3 linked regions of the Homo sapiens genome follow. The protein of the gene in region 1 interacts with the protein of each later gene in a biochemical or structural test. Each region holds a gene or a part of one and is shown on either strand. Other genes may lie near its edges.

Region 1 (3,656 bases):
TGATTGATAGATAAATAGATGATAGATACATAGATGATAGATGGTAGATAGATGATAGATGGATAGATGATAGATGATAGGTGGTAGATGATAGACAGATGATTAGAAAGATAGATGATAGATACATAGATGATAGACACATAGATGATAGACAGATTGACAGATGATAGATGATTGATAGATGATTAAATAGATGATACATAGATGATAATGATAAATAGATGATAGATGATAGATGATAGGTGATAGATAGATTGATAGATGATAGAAGATTGATAGATGATAGATACATAGGTGATAGTAGATGTAAGATGATAGATGATAGATAGATAGATGATAGACAGATTGATAGATGATAGAGAGATAGAGATAGAGAAAGAGGAGAGAGAAATAGAGAGAGAGAGAGAATGTGTGTGAACCCAAAGTATCTGAGACAGGTCTCAATCGATTTAGAAAGTTGATTTTGCCAAGGTTAAGGACACCCCCGTGACACAGCCTCAGGAGGTCCTGAGGACATGTGCCCAAGGTTGTCAGGGCACAGCTTGCCTTTAGACGTTTTAGGGAGTCATGAGACATCAATCAACATGTGTGAGATGTACATCGGTTTGGTCGGGAAAGTTGGGATAACTCGAAGCAAGGGCTTCCAGGCCATAGGTAGATAAGAGACAAAAGGCTGTATTCTGAGTCCTTGATCAGCTTTTCACTGAACACACAATTGAGTCTGGCTCAGTTCATCTGCATTTTTACATAAAAAATAGGGCAGAGGAAGCAATCAGATACGCATTTGTCTCAGATGAGCAGAGGGATGATTTTCTGTCCTGCACCTGGGAAGATAAGCTATCCATTTACAATGCCAAGGTGAAAGTCAACAGAACTGTTTTAGGGTAAAGATCTTTAGGCCTGCAAGGAATGTCCTTGTAGAGAATTAAAAAAAAAAAAAAAAAACTTTGCAGCTATCTTATTGAGGAATAAATGAGAGGCAGGTTTGCCTGACGTAGTTCCCGGCTTGACATTTCCCTTGGCTCATGACGTTGGGGTCCTGAGATTTATTTTCCTTTCACACTAGATAGATAGACATTTATGTTAAGGAACTGGCTGACAGGATCGTGGGGGCTGGCAAGTCCGAAACATCTTGGTAAGCCAGGCTGGAAGTGCAGGCAGAAGCTGAGGCTGCTCTCTTAAGGCAGAATTTCTTATTCAGGAAACCTCATATTTGCTCTTAAGGCCTTTAAGTGATTGGACGAGGCCCAACTACATTATCTAGGACAATTTCCTTTTCTAAAGTCAACTGGCTGTAGATATTAACCACATCTATAAAACACTTTCACAACTCCTAGATGAATGTTTGGTTAACTGACTGGGTGCCACAGCCTGGCCAAGTTGACATATAAGACTATTCCAGTCCACACCTTGTCAATTTGGCACCCATGTGCATCTCCTTAAACCATCCTTCACCTCCAAGTAAACACAGGAACAAAATCATACTCCTGCCTAACATGATAGAACTACCAGTGTACAACCAAAAACGCACTCCCGGCTGGGCGTGGTGGCTCACGCCTGTAATCCCAGCACTTTGGGAAGCCAAGGCAGGTGGATCACCTGAGGTCAGGAGTTCAAGACCAGCCTGGCCAACATGGTGAAACCCTGTCTCTACTAAAAATACAAAAATTAGCCAGGCATGGTGGCAGGCACCTGTAATCCCAGCTACTCGGGAAGCTGAGGCTGAAGAATTGCCCAAATCCAGGAAACGGAGGTTGCAGTGAGAGGAGATGCGCCGCTGCACTCCAGCCTGGGATAAACAGCGAGACTCTGTCAAAAAAAAAAGCACCCCCCATTCCTCCAGAAAAGGATACCAAAGTCCTTGGGTCCTAAAGGAGAGGCTTCACCTTTGACCTACCCTGGCCCTTCCCTTGGCTGATTTTTCAGAAACCCAGATCGAGACTCAAAGCCCTGGTGCTACGTCTTTAAGGCGGGGAAGTACAGCTCAGAGTTCTGCAGCACCCCTGCCTGCTCTGAGGGTAAGTGGCAGCCACCCCGCCTTTCCCTGAATGTCCCTGGGGGAGGAAAGTCCAGGAGGACAGGCCGATAGCCCTCCTGCACCTGAGGGGAGAAAGGGGGAGGCCAGGAGTGAGTCATTTTGGTTGCAGAGGGAAGAAAGACAGGACTTAGGTCTGTGCCTGGGCTTGGCCTCTGACTGGCTATTTGTCTGACCTGGAGCTGATCTCCTCACACTCTGACCCTCAATTTCCTCCTCTATGGAGGAGAGGATGGGGCTGAATCAGTGGTTTTCAGTCCTTTTGAGAATGAATGGAGATTCTCCCTTTTTTGATTAATGGGTGAATGGGGCTTTGTCTCTCTTTCGCTCCCTCTCAAACTTTTTAATGCAAAAAAAAAAAAAAAAAAACTTCCAAGATTGAAAAAATATATATTAAGTTACAAGACCAGGCACAGTGGCTTATGCCTATAAACCCAGCACTCTGGGAGGCTGAGGCGGGCGGCTCACCTGAGGTCAGGAGTTTGAGACCAGCCTGGCCAACATGGTGAAACCCTGTCTCTACTAAAAATACAAAAATTAGCCGGATACGGTGGCAGGCACCTGTAATCCCAGCTACTCAGGAGGCTGAGGCAGGAGAATTGCTTGAACCTGGGAGATGGAGGTTGCAGTGAGCCGAGATCATGCCACTGCACTCCAGCCTGGGTGATAGAACAAAAAACTGTTTCAAAAAAAAGAAAAAAATGAAATGCTAAGTTACAGAAAGGTACTATGAATTCAGTGGTGCTTATACAAATCATTACGTTACTTATCACATTTATCACAGCACTATGAAAGATTTTTTTTAAGTTCTAAATATATATAGGGCCAGGTGCAGTGGCTCGTGTCTATAATCCCAGCACTTTGGGAGGCTGAGGCGGGAGAACTGCTTGAGCCCAGGAGTTTGAGACCAGCCTGGGCAACAAAGTGAGACTCCATCTCTACAAAAAATACAAAAATTAGTCAGGTGTGGTGGCTTGTGCCTATGGTCCCAGCTGCTTGGGAGGCTCAGGTGGGAGGATCGCTTGAGCCCAGGAGGTTGAGGCCACAGTGAGCAATGATTGTGCCACTGCACTCCAGCCTGGGTGACAGTGAGATCCTGCCTCAAAATAAATACATAAATATGTGTGTGGGTGTGTGTATATATATATGTAATACACATATATTAAATTTATATATGATATATATAAACACGCACCAGCTATATGCATTCAGCACCCAGGTCCACGGGTGATGCCTGTGACTCTGAAGACTTTACAGTCACTCTACAATATCCTCCCCATCCCCCATGGTCTGGTCTAAATGAGGACTCGCAGATCTAGATAATCTTGAAAATCCCTTCCATTTATGGTATTTATGTATAGAGGTATGCTTTGTCAGTTTCAGGTCGGGAGAAAAAAATGGAAAAATGGGGGAAATAAATGAAAACAGGCAGCACTCCACGGCTCATACCCTCCTCCTTCCCAAGCCCATCATCAGATCCTCAGGACACTGGCAGACACAGTCCGAGAAATAACCCCCACCCCAGCCCCACTGAAGCACGTTGGTTCACTGCAGCCTGTTAAGTAACACAAGGAAACCCCTACTGGCTTTCAAAGCAGCTTCAGAAACAGCCCCCACTCAT
Region 2 (2,849 bases), on another chromosome or scaffold:
CATAGGTGATCTTTCCAGAACAGCTAACCAGGTGCCTGGGGTCTGGAGACCTTACTGCTTGAGGAGTGAATTAAGAGAAAAGACTGCTTGCTTTCCTCCAGACTTTGAGCCCTGGCCTGATGTAGACCTTTTTGCTCTCTCCTCCTTCGTATAGGTACGGTTCCTGGAGCAGCAGAACAAGATGCTGGAGACCAAGTGGAGCCTCCTGCAGCAGCAGAAGACGGCTCGAAGCAACATGGACAACATGTTCGAGAGCTACATCAACAACCTTAGGCGGCAGCTGGAGACTCTGGGCCAGGAGAAGCTGAAGCTGGAGGCGGAGCTTGGCAACATGCAGGGGCTGGTGGAGGACTTCAAGAACAAGTGAGCAACTCCCACCCTCCACCCAACTGAAGTCACCGTGCTCTCCTCCACCCCTTGGGACCTTGGGACTAAGTCCCCATGGCCCTCTGTTGTGGGAAGTGCAGTCCTATCTAATTAGGGTGACCACCTGATGAGGTTTGCTCGGAACAGTCTGTGTTTATGCCCAGGTTCCTAGCACAATTGTTGATAGTACCCACCCCCTTTCAATCTCAACTGTCTGGATTTGAAGAACAAATTATGTGTCAATGTTGACATGGTAAACCTGAGACGGGAGAGATAGGCAGCCTGTGGGCCTCACTTTTGTACTTAACATTCTGGCCCCTCTTTAGTCTTGACCCTTGACCTCTAGCAAACTCTAGAAAGTTCTGTCTGAGGTCTCATGTCAGGCCCTGCTGTTAACACTCTCAAGGTGTCCAATCCGATGTGTATTCATGGATTTGGAGAGAGATTTCCTGCTTCCCACGGGCTAAGGGAGGGGTGAGGGTGGAGAGGGCAGCTGGGGAAGGCAGAAGGACCAGCCTTCTCATATCCTGCATCTCTGTGAACTGAATTTTCCTGATTTTCACAACGCCCCTGTCTCCCAAAAGACCAAGGGCAACCTCCCTTTTGCCTTCATCCTCTAATTGTAAGTCTTTTCCTCACAGGTATGAGGATGAGATCAATAAGCGTACAGAGATGGAGAACGAATTTGTCCTCATCAAGAAGGTGAGGGAGTCTCCCTTCTCCTATCTGGACACTGGAGGCTGGGGCTCAGAGACTCAGACCAAGAAGCTTTCTGGGTTTTGTCCCTAAATATTCCTAAGTAGTGGGACAAACTCATTTATGTAAACATTTGGGTGCACAGAAAGGTAGACAAGGATGGAGTGGTAGGTGCATTTGGACAGAACTCTTGACATCGGTGTTGGGACATGGTTCAGAAAACAGAGCAGTAGAACTGGAGATCTGGCTCTAGAAGGCTCCCTAGAGAAGGAGGTGGAAGAGGGTGTGTTGCAGGAAGCAGAGGTGAAGGTGTGTGGGCTGAGAATGCACATGTGATGGGCAGAGGCTGGGCTGGAAGATCAATCCACAAAGTGGGCAACTAGAAAGTCCTGTGACCAGGCCATTGGGTGGACCTTGGGAGCCCCTTGGTTGGGGTTGGGTGTGGAAACCCAGCTCAGGCTCCCCTCTCCTCATCCCCCAGGATGTGGATGAAGCTTACATGAACAAGGTAGAGCTGGAGTCTCGCCTGGAAGGGCTGACCGACGAGATCAACTTCCTCAGGCAGCTATATGAAGAGGTATGTTCCTGGTCGCAGGAGAGTGAGGGTCCCCCAGCCTTGTCAGCGCCTCCACCCTGAGACTCAACCAGAGGCTCCTCCCAGCCCCCAGCACACTAATAAGACAAAGGCCCACTGCTGACTAATTACAGCCACCAATATTTGCTCGGCTAGTATTTATTGGGTCTATATGTTCTGTCCCTCGCATGAGGGATGAGTCATTACCCCATTTCACAGACGAGAAAGTGGGCTCAGAGAAGTGAAATAACGTATCCAAGGTCATCATAGGGTGTGGTGATTCAGCAGCAACTCTGTCCCCAAAGCCCTTGTTCCTAATCTTTGAGCTGCATTGGATCCCTCTGTGCACCTAGTATTGGTGCACCCAGTTCCTTTTTCAGGAACTTTGCCCTCTCCCTGACCCTGACTCCCACCTGCTCCTCTCCTCTGCTGCCCCTGTCTTATACCCTAAGAAAGGCTGTTGTGGAAAAGGGGGCTCCCTGTGTGCAGAGACAGGGCCTCACCACTTGCCCTCTTCCCCCACAGGAGATCCGGGAGCTGCAGTCCCAGATCTCGGACACATCTGTGGTGCTGTCCATGGACAACAGCCGCTCCCTGGACATGGACAGCATCATTGCTGAGGTCAAGGCACAGTACGAGGATATTGCCAACCGCAGCCGGGCTGAGGCTGAGAGCATGTACCAGATCAAGTATGAGGAGCTGCAGAGCCTGGCTGGGAAGCACGGGGATGACCTGCGGCGCACAAAGACTGAGATCTCTGAGATGAACCGGAACATCAGCCGGCTCCAGGCTGAGATTGAGGGCCTCAAAGGCCAGGTATGGGCCGGGTTGGGGGTGGGAGGGGTTCCTTGGACACATCCTGGTGAGAGGAGATAATGTAGGAAGAGTGAAGTTTCTGGGAGTCGGGGAAGGAATCCTAGACCAGGGTTCAGGAGTTGGAGGGGCAGCCACAGTTCAGCTTCTCAGTCTGCTTCTGAGAAGCAAAGGGATGCAGGGAAGGTCCCTTGGGCCAGGACAGAGGTGAAAGGGGACTGGGGCAGGTATGTTGGGGCTCGTGATACATGCTCCCAAGCCTGCTTTAATCAGTCATATGCATCAGGGTAAGGTTGAGCTCTGCTGCTTTAAGGAAAGTCTAGAACCCAGGGATCTAGTCCAGTTAGGGTAGGGGGACCTTACAGTGTCGCAGGTGAGAAGGGTGTGGAGGGGAAGCACC
Region 3 (3,656 bases), on another chromosome or scaffold:
ACCATTTGAGAGTCTGTCAATTACGTATGCATTTTGTGAAGACAACAGGATATGGCAGGAGGTGGGGGAGAGATTAATTTAATATAAAGTTGCTCATTTATTTCATGTTGATGTGTTGCATTAAATCCCAAAGATAAAAAGACAATGGCAACAAAGGTACAGTCAACAGAAAAGCCCATCTCTGGTGTACAGCAGAGGGGAGCCTGTGTCTAAATAGTACGTGTTTACATACCAGAGTTGCCCACGGTAACAACCTCTTCCCGAACCTTATGCCTCTGCTGGTCTTTCAGTGCCTCCACTATGACGTTGTAGGTGGCACCTCTGGTGAGGCCTGTCAGAGTGGCACTGGTAGAAGTTCCAGGAACCCTGAACTGCAATTATCGGTACATCCAAAGCAGAGAGAAAGCATTATAGTGAGGAATGACACGGGCTCTCCTCTTACCAATAACCCTCACTGTTTAAACAAAGCAAAGGAAGACAAAAAACAAAAAACAAAAAAAAAAAAAAGAGGGAGGGTATAGTGGTCCTAACCAGCTGAGGAGAGAAATGGAACAAGGATAGGGGCCATCGTTCCTGCCAGATTTTCCTGCCAACAATCTACCTACGTGCTCCGTAGTTAACAGGAGCCCTCGACAATACTAGAGACGGCCTGCCATTGATCTTGCTTCAGTCGCAGGTCTGCATAAGCCCTCTGGAAGCCCTGGCCATGTTTGCTTCACATAAAACCTGGACACTGCGCTATATGGGAGACACGGTCATGCTCCTCCAGGTGACATCTGACCCCAGTGTGGAGTCCTTAAAACAGTTGGGCAAATCCTCAAACTCATGTTTCTAAGCTCATAAATTTCCTACAGTGTTGTCAGTTTTTAAATTCTGCCACTTTCTAAAAGTAACAACACAATAAAAATTGATACTGTCAGTGGGCCGGGTGTAGTGGGTGGCTCATGCTTGTAGTCCCAGCACTTTGGGAGGCCAAGGCGGGCGGATCACGAGGTCAGGAGATCGAGACCATCCTGGCCAACATCGTGAAACCCCGTCTCTACTAAAAATACAAAAATTAGCTGGGTGCGGTGGCACATGCCTGTAATCCCAGCTATTTGGGAGGCTGAGGCAGGAGAATTGCTTGAACCTGGGAGGCAGAGGTTGCAGTGAGCCGAGATCACGCCACTGCACTCCAGCCAGGGCCATAGAGCAAGACTCCATCTCGGGGAAAAAAAAAAATGGATACTGTCAACACAAATTAAATAATATACGTTTTAGAGAATCAATCACTTATCAGCTGCTATGCACAGCTTCGCCTGTTTTTTTTTTTCTTTAGATATGTTGTAGATAGTGGGGTTCTTCAAGGACAAATCGTAAAGGTAGTGTTTTAGACTTCTGCACACAAATGGAAATTCAGGTAGAATATCTTTCTTTTCTAGAATCATCTATCTTACTCAAAAAGGAACCTCAAATGTGTGAGAATAAGAGAAATAGTTTCATTTTCTCTATGAAATAAAAGCTAGTGACTCTCTGGTATGTCCTCCAAAGTAGAGCCATATTGGGATTTAAAAAAAAAAAAAAGCAGGGCTTAAATGTGCCATCTTCTAAGAGGTTCTAAAAGTGGAGCCACTTTTTTTTTTTTTTTTTTTTCAAGAGACGAGGTTTCACCATGTTGGCCAGGCTGGTCTTGAACTCCTAACCTCAAATGATCCACCTGCCTCGGCCTCCCAAAGTGCTGGGATTACAGGCGTGAGCCATCACACCCGGCCATGAAGCCACTTTTTATTCGAGGGCTGGTCACTTCAGTTACCTAACTTATTCCTTTCTGTGCTGCCCCATGAGAAGTGAAGAGAACAATTAATTACCTGTAAGGGTTCTTCATCAGTGCCAACAGGATGACATGAAATGATGTACTCAGAAGTGTCCTGGAATGGGGCCCATGAGATGGTTGTCTGAGAGAGAGCTTCTTGTCCTGTAGAGGCATTTGGATTGAGTCCCGGACCGTGTGGGTACAGGTGATAGTCTACATCTTCCCTGGGGATGTGACCAATTTGGATTTCCTCACCTACATTCGGCGGGTATGGTCTTGGCCTATGCCTTATGGGGGTGGCCGTTGTGGGCGGTGTGGTCCGCCTAAAACCATGTTCCTCAAAGATCATTTGTTGCCCAACACTGGGTTGCTGACCAGAAGTGCCAGGAAGCTGAATACCATTTCCAGTGTCATACCCAGGGTGGGTGACGAAAGGGGTCTTTTGAACTGTGGAAGGAACATCCAAGATCTCTGGTCCATGAAGATTGGGGTGTGGAAGGGTTACCAGTTGGGGAAGCTCGTCTAGCCGAGAGAGGTTAGAGCCAAAAAAGCAAAGCGCATTAAGCTCCAGGAAGTAGCAGCAATGATAATAATCGATTCAGGCAACAATGACTGTTCATCAATTTGATAAAAGCCACCAGAAAATGAGCAGTTCTGAGATCACAAAACACTTTTTCCAGAAAGAAATCTTTAGGATTTTTCTCAAAGGTTTCTTTATAGTTTAGAAAGAAAAAAGTGTTAGTATGAATTTATCATACACACAGCTTTAAACCGCTGAGCCCCGTAGAAGCTGCCTCTGCTCAAATTAGACCTAATGGAACTGAAATGTGCAGTCTTTCTCTTTCTCTCTTTCTTTTTTAAATTTGAGAAGCAAGTTGTAGGAAGTAGAATCCAGACTAATCATATCAGTGTCATAAGTATGAGAATTACAGAGGTTTGGCTCAACAGTTTTTCATGGTTTGAAATGGTAAAAATAGATAAAACACACATGTTCATTTTTGAAATTTTCCTATATCAGGAATACACATTTTCTTGAAATTAACTGAAACTGGATGCAAAAGTAAGACATTATTTAGCTCTAAGTTGTAGAAACCAAATAAAGATAAATGTGAGAGGTTTCTCTCCCTCCTTTAAAAAAGGAAACATTTTAAAATTCAACAGAAGGTATAAAAGAAGAGCAATGATAGCTCTTCTTTTACATTTTAACATCTTGTTTGAATTTTTAAAAGGTGAATAACAAGGCTTTATATTGAGTGGCTGTAGTAAAGAAAAAAAATAAAACCAAACTCTGCAGTGCATGTTAAATTATTTCTCCTATTAAAGAATACAATATATACACTATGCTGTTAGATAAAAAAAATCACAAGAAATGCATCAAAACATGGAGAACCTTTTCATATTGCAAGATTGCTCATTTGTTATTAGTTTTGTCCTATCTTTCTCCTTGTTACCTGCAAGATACTCTTACCTGTCTTTTTCCTTCCAATCAGGGGCTCGCTCTTCTGATTATTCTTCAGGGCAATGACATAAATTGTATATTCGGTTCCCGGTTCCAGGCCTGAAGGGAGAATAGAACCATCACATTATGTCAATGGGCTCAGCTAGTCAAGTGGAAGTCGGTCTCACCAGCAGACGCTACTGGGAGCAGGCACTTCCTCTCCAGCTGGCTGTTGGCCTCTTGAAGGTAAAATCGACTTCACTTTTCCTCCATAAACACCCAAATATCCTGCATATAAAGTCCGCATCGCAAACTAATTATCTTACTATCATATCTGACGCCTGAATAGACATTTTTTGGCTAACTTTTCCAGGGTATTCTTTTTTTTTTTTTTTTTTTTTTTTTTGAGATGGAGTCTGGCTCTGT

What was found.
Region 2: the proteins of PLAT (region 1) and KRT8 form a complex in vitro, tested with the Homo sapiens proteins (one study listed by BioGRID).
Region 3: the proteins of PLAT (region 1) and FN1 form a complex in vitro, tested with the Homo sapiens proteins (one study listed by BioGRID).

The regions. Positions count from the first base shown.
Region 1 is NC_000008.11:42,183,443-42,187,098, reverse strand, and holds part of PLAT (tissue-type plasminogen activator isoform 1 preproprotein), read left to right. Parts: intron 1-1,926; coding exon 1,927-2,018; intron 2,019-3,656. UniProt on the Homo sapiens protein: Converts the abundant, but inactive, zymogen plasminogen to plasmin by hydrolyzing a single Arg-Val bond in plasminogen.
Region 2 is NC_000012.12:52,899,378-52,902,226, reverse strand, and holds part of KRT8 (keratin, type II cytoskeletal 8), read left to right. Parts: intron 1-154; coding exon 155-363; intron 364-1,007; coding exon 1,008-1,068; intron 1,069-1,543; coding exon 1,544-1,639; intron 1,640-2,161; coding exon 2,162-2,452; intron 2,453-2,849. UniProt on the Homo sapiens protein: Together with KRT19, helps to link the contractile apparatus to dystrophin at the costameres of striated muscle.
Region 3 is NC_000002.12:215,370,062-215,373,717, forward strand, and holds part of FN1 (fibronectin isoform 1 precursor), read right to left. Parts: intron 3,351-3,656; coding exon 3,261-3,350; intron 2,315-3,260; coding exon 1,848-2,314; intron 372-1,847; coding exon 233-371; intron 1-232. UniProt on the Homo sapiens protein: Fibronectins bind cell surfaces and various compounds including collagen, fibrin, heparin, DNA, and actin. Fibronectins are involved in cell adhesion, cell motility, opsonization, wound healing, and maintenance of cell shape.